2 separate regions of the Homo sapiens genome follow, and region 1 is linked to region 2. Evidence: fine-mapped QTL for protein levels in blood plasma. Region 2 holds a variant in brackets. A gene starts in the other region. All regions are shown on their forward strands.

Region 1 (2,890 bases), not on the chromosome of region 2:
CATACATGACTGCATTAGGGCCCACCCAGATAATCCACGATAATCTCTCTGTCTCAGCATGCTTAATTGCTTTTTAATAAACCATGTAAGGTGACATTCACAGGGTCAGGGACTAGGACAGGAATGTCTTTTTGGGGAGGAAGGCTGTGTTTCAGCCTGCCATGGCTACCATCCTTCCAAATCCACGAATGATGGGAGAAAGAGACCTTTCCACCAGCCCGTGTTAGAAGAGTCCCAACTCTGAGTGACCCTGTCTAGGCCACTGCAGAGCCCTGAGCCAGTGGGGAAGTGGGGCTTTGGGAAGGAGTGGGAGTAAGGAGGGGGCCTGTCACTTGGTTGGAGTTGGGGAGGGAGCTACCATTCCCCCAAAATAGGCAGAGCCGGGTGGCTGCTGGTGAGACAGAAACCACACAGCTCCATTAAATGGCATGTGGGGAAACATGATAACATAAGGGAGTAATGCAGGAAAGTGTGTTTGGGCTGGGCGTGGTGGCTCACGCCTGTAATCCCAGCACTTTGGGAGGCCAAGGTGGGCGGATTGCTTGAGCTCAGGAGTTGGAGACCAGCCTGGGCAACGTGGGGAAACCCTGTCTCTACAAAACATACAAAAATGAGCTGGGCATGGTGGCTGAAACCTGTAGTCCCAGCCACTTAGGAGGCTGAGGCAGGAGAATGGCTTGAGCCTGGGATATGGTGGTTGCAGTGAGCCAAGACTGCACCACTGCACTCCAGCCTGGGCGGCAGAGGCAGAGGGAGACCCTGTCTCAAAACAAAAAGAAAAAGAAAAACAAACAAACAAAAACCTTTGCTGGGAAGCAGGAGAGTTTCCTGGAAAGGAAGGCGGTAGGTTTACACCTTTCCTGGGTGCTCAAATTCAAAGAGATACTGTATTTCTGGTTTTCATCTCTTTGCAATTCATTTACCTTTTTTTTTTCCTCTCTGCAGAACACAAATCCGGTCAAGTTTTGGGTTGTCATGAGGGAGAACTGACATAGCGCTGGGCGGTGAGTTCAGCCAGGTTATCTCTGCGAGGACACCGGTCGGCGGCGGACAGCAGCACGCGGCGTCCAGGACCCGGCCTTCCTAGAGCTTAGGTCACTGTAGCCTCCAGGGGCGCTCCGAGTCCATCTGGAGGGCCGCGAGGCTTCCAGGCTGGAAGGAGGAATAGGGAGAAGGAGGAATAGGGAGACCTGGGGCAGTGTTACAATTACAGAAAAGGGAGAGGCGAGGTCCGCTGAGTCCTTGGCCTGGGCAACAAGGCACACTGAAAACTGGGTTCCTTTTCGACCCGCATCGTGCGCGCCCTAGAAATGACAGCCAGACGGAGCAGGGTCTAAGGACGCTGAAAACCCCTGACGTGGGCGCGCCGGGTGCGGGTAGGGACGTGGAAGGACTGGGCTAGCCACAGGAACTACAGCGCTGCGGACCGGGTGAGGGGTCCCGGCCCGAGTCCCCACTTGGGGCGCAGAGGTGTTTCTGTAAGGGGACAAAGGGCACTCCTCGGCGCGATGGGCGACTTCCCCAGCCAGAAAATGAGAGGGTTAGACGAGGGGAGGAACTTCCTCAGCCACTTGGCCCGGCACAGCGACCGCCCCAAGTTCAGAACCGCTAAGTCAGTCCGGGGCGCTCCGGCCCCTTCGTCCCGCGCCCCGCCCGCCTCCAGCCCGGGCCCCGCCGCCCCCGTCGCCCCTGTCGCCCGGGTCGCCCCCGCCGGCCCTGGCCCCGGCCCCGCACACCGGCAGGGGGCGCCCGAGCGCAGCTAAAAGGCTCGGCGGGAGGTCGGCGGCCTCAGTGGCGGAGCGCGGCTGCCGGTGTGCGGCCGGGAGCGATCGCCGCGGGGCAGGGGCGCGGCGGGCACCGCGCAGAGCGCGCAGAACAGACGGACGGCGGCGGGGACCCGACGGCGGCGCCTCGGCACTCCCCAGACTCCGGCCAGCGCCCCCCTGCCAGCCGCAAGCACCCAGCCCCGGCCCACCCCGGGCTCTCGATGGCCCCCGAGGCCGGGGCGACCCTGCGCGCGCCGCGCCGGCTGTCCTGGGCGGCGCTGCTGCTCTTGGCCGCGCTGCTCCCCGTCGCCTCCTCGGCGGCGGCCTCAGGTACGCGCCGCGCCCGGGCCCCCGGCGCTCCTCAGCTCCCCGCGCACCCTCCTGCGCTCGGGCCCCGTCGTCCCGCTCAGTGCTGGCTACGGGTCGTGTCACTAGCCTGTGCGTCCTCGTCACTCGCGGGTCGGGGCACTTGGCGCCCTGTGTGGGTGGCGGGAGCGGGGACGCCTCGGTGCCCGGGGACCGCAGCGCGCTGGCGTTTAACTTTGCCGTCGCCCGCCTTGGAGTCGGGAGGCTCCAGCCGTCTAAGTGTCCCGGGAGATTCAGGCACAGCGGGGAAAAAAGGAAAAGAAAGGCGACTTTCAGCGTGCGGACTGGGGTAATGCCTTTCTTTGCCCAGAATTTCTCGGGAGCGTAGGTGGTCATCCTACTTTCTCCGCGTTCACCTCTCGCGAGGCAGGATGACGGGCGCACTCGGGAGACCGGAGGGAGGCAGAGCAGGGCTGTTCTAGAAGGTCGTGGGGGAAAGGCTGCGAGCTGCCGCAGGGCGTCGGGTGCCTCTGCGCTCCAGAGGAGAAGCGCTCCAGTGCCAGCTCGGCTCCAGGCGGCAGGAGGCCCGCGCGCCCGGGGGGAACGTTCAAGCTGGGAGAAAATGTTTGTCTTGAGAGGAGGGAGAGGGAAATGAGAAAGCTGATTCCAGAGAAACTCGCCCTTCCCCAATGGCTGAGGCTGCAGCCAGGATGGATGCTTCCTTTGAGAGCAATGCTTTTCAGAAAATGCTAGCGCGCTCCTGTCAGATTTCTTGCAAGCTTCCTGCAGAGAGAGACAAGTTTGTGGCGAGGTTTTCA
Region 2 (2,899 bases):
GGGCTCTTAATGGCTCCCAAACCCGCTCCCCTCATCGCACCAGCCCTAGTGCAGGCAGCCCCACCCCTCTGCTTGGACCCTCGCTGGCCTCTTAGTCTCTCCCGTACCACCGCACTGACACTCCCACCCTGACTCCTCCTTGTCTCGGAGAATACACGACCAGCCAGGACCCCTCTCCAGCCACAGGCCTGGCCCTGCCCACACTGCCCTCTGTCATCCAGTGTAAGGGGCCCTGCCCTCACACACCGTTTCACACCCCTGTGCTCGCTCAAGTCCCCTCAACTCCTACTCTGCTTTTAACCATCCCCTCGGCTGTCACTGACTCCAGGAAGCCCTCTCAGGCCTCCCAGGCCCTGTATGCCCAGACATGGCTATGACACCCTTTGTCCTCCCTCCCTCCACCATAAGCCTTCAAGGGCAGGAGCTATGTTGTCTGTCAATTCTCAGGGCCTGGCTGTGTCTGGAACACAGAGGAGCTTGAAATCTGCCTGATGAAATGAACAGACTTCTGTCTCCAAATGACATTGGGAGGATACACAGGTCTCCCCCCATCCCATCTGTGTCCAGCTGTCCAGTGAGGCCCCGCATCCAGAGGTGGGGTGAGCATGCCCCCAGTGCCTTCTGGCCCGGGCTCTGCTGTCCTGTCTTTGAGCTCTCTCTCAGTCCCCGTCCCAGGACAGCTGTGAGGTCGGGAGGAGGCTATGGAGCCAGGCAGACCACCTCCCGGCTGTATGGTCTGGGCAAGACCCCCACTGGCCTCTCTGGTCTGAGGACTTGAGGCAGGCAAGGCCTGGCCGGGCACTCCCTTCCACTGGCCAGTGCCCTTCATTCATGGCACGCACCAGCCATGAGAAGAACTCTCGGGCGCAGGTGTGGACAAGCAGAAGCGGCTTGCAGGGCCACACAAGGGAGGGGTAGGAACCCTCACGAGGGGAAAGGCCTGGCTTGGGGTTTACAGAAAGGGCCTCCCCCATCATGTCGTTTCTTTAAATGTGAATGTAGCTGGCTTCAAACAAAATCTCAGTGGGCGCTGCCAGCTCGGGTTCACTCTGCCAGAAAAGACTAAATGTTTTTTGAAGATCCTGAGGAATGGAGGAGGAAAGCCCAATCTACTTTACATGTTTAATTTGCAGCAAAGTCACCGAGAAGCACGCCGAATCTACCCCAAATGACATCAAATAGTTCCAAAGGTCCACCCGCCCACTCAGCTCTCCAATGGACGTGACTGCAGACACAGGTGCAGTTCGTAGCCCTCGAGCAGGCTGCGTTGTTGGTGGGGGTGGGTCGGCTAAGCGCATACTTTGGTAAGTCTGCAAAATCCCCACCCCACCTCCCCAGGCCAGCCCAGCCAAACCCTTCCACACGGGAACAGCTGATAAGCAGCCACAGAATGTCTCAATTCAAGGCCTCAGTGATGAATGGACTGCAGATGAGGCTTCTGACTTTGCAAAAAAAAAC[T/C]GTACTTTATCACTCCCAAAGCCTGCCCTTGGCTGGAAACAGATGTTCCAAACCCCGTCCGCTCCGCAGCTGCAGCGTGCCTGCTTCCGGAGCCGCTTGTCTGTCTTCAGGGCCGGCATCTGCCGAGGGCCTTGGCTTTCTGGGAAGAGTCTATGTCTAAAAGTCATGGTCGTCCGAGTTCAGTTATATAATGTTATTGATCCCGGTTGGTTTGCTTAAGAAAAACACAACTAATTAGACTCTATAAAAACCTACACACCAAATTAATTCTGTATTGCTCTAGTGACTTCCGCCTGAAAAAAACGTTATAAATATAGATGACCACTGGACCTATATTTAGCCAGCACTGGATTACCTGGTATTTATAATTAAGGAAGTCCAGAAAGAGAGAGAGAGAATGGACATTTTGTTGTTATTTCTTAAAGCATTTTTTAAAAACTGCTTCCCATTTCAGTCACATATACACATAGCAACATTCTGTTATTGCAATAATTACAATCCTGACCCAAGTTAAGATGATTGCACAATTTCCCAGTCTCCTAAAATTACTTTCTTCAACACATATCCACCCAAACTATGCAATTAAGCTGTTCAACATCCTAAAAATTCCTGAGAAATCATTAATTCTTACTTAGCAAACTTCATTTTTCTCTTCCCTTAAGTCGCCAAACCAAATGGTCCGGCTTCGGATGAGAACGTTTAATTTCTACATGTGGTCTCGGCCTATATTTTCAAGGTCTACAAAAAGCTACCTGAAAAAACTACAATCCTGACTTTGAAGATCTCCATTTTAAATCATTTCCTGGTTGCAGGTTTCTTTACGGCTGTCTGGAATTAGTTGTTTTACCGGATTCCTAAATCCAATGCCTCTTGAGTATTCATTTTTGTTTTGTTTTGTTTTAATTTTAAGATAAGCTGTAAAACTCTTCTTTTTCCTGAAAAATTCCAGTCTAAAGTCATCATATGGGGAAGAACATGGTGTGTGTGGGGTGGGAAGATCCGGGGTGGCCCAGAACAAGGCACTGCTGCAACTCAGAAGGTGAGGAGGGCGCTCACATGGGGGAACGTGGAATCGAGCCCGTGGGGCTACGGGTGGGAACAGGCTACTCCAGATGTCAGTCCAGGCAGATAACCAGGCTGCCCACTCAGGGAAAGTGAAGACACAGGACATGGCAGATTGGTTACCCACAGAGCACAGATGGAACATGTTACTACATTAGGGGCCCTTACAACTGATAAAGACCGGTGGAATTCCCCGGTGTCCATGGCTGTGCTGCACGGCTCTGCAGACACAGTCCTTGTTTATGCAAAGGACACACTGGAGCACTGGGGCTGGCGGGGCCGGGGTCACCAGGTTCTCTGCGCTGGGTCAGTTGAGCTTTGCCCTGTGCATTCAATTTTTCTGTAAGTTTGTGATTGTTTCAAAAAATTGTAAAAGAAA

Direction of the effects. Positions count from the first base shown, and alleles are read on the strand shown. Strength reflects both the effect of a copy and how common the allele is.
For the plasma level of the protein whose gene starts at base 1,791 in region 1, C is the high allele of the variant in region 2 and T is the other (moderate association).

Evidence for each region. PIP is the posterior inclusion probability: the model's chance that the variant is causal. The UK Biobank Pharma Proteomics Project read protein levels with antibody pairs (Olink). The fine-mapping took linkage between variants from a reference panel, not from the people measured, so its PIPs are less certain.
Region 1: it holds the start of FNDC1, and the variant in region 2 is fine-mapped to the plasma level of the FNDC1 protein (UK Biobank, PIP 0.96).

The regions. Positions count from the first base shown.
Region 1 is chr6:159,167,610-159,170,499 of GRCh38, forward strand. It overlaps FNDC1 (fibronectin type III domain containing 1), which reads left to right and starts at 1,791. Exons shown (of 23, transcript NM_032532.3): 1 at 1,791-2,096. The coding sequence starts at 1,988. It overlaps FNDC1-AS1 (FNDC1 antisense RNA 1), which reads right to left and starts at 2,398. Exons shown (of 4, transcript NR_121668.1): 1 at 2,203-2,398; 2 at 924-1,152. RefSeq lists a silencer at 1,670-1,839 and an enhancer at 2,646-2,890.
Region 2 is chr15:101,450,110-101,453,008 of GRCh38, forward strand. The region is part of intron 1 of PCSK6 (proprotein convertase subtilisin/kexin type 6); the gene reads right to left. Among named protein-coding and RNA genes, the nearest start is that of PCSK6, 38 kb to the right of the region's middle. RefSeq lists enhancers at 905-1,638, 2,655-2,899. The variant T/C (reference allele first, on the strand shown) is at 1,459.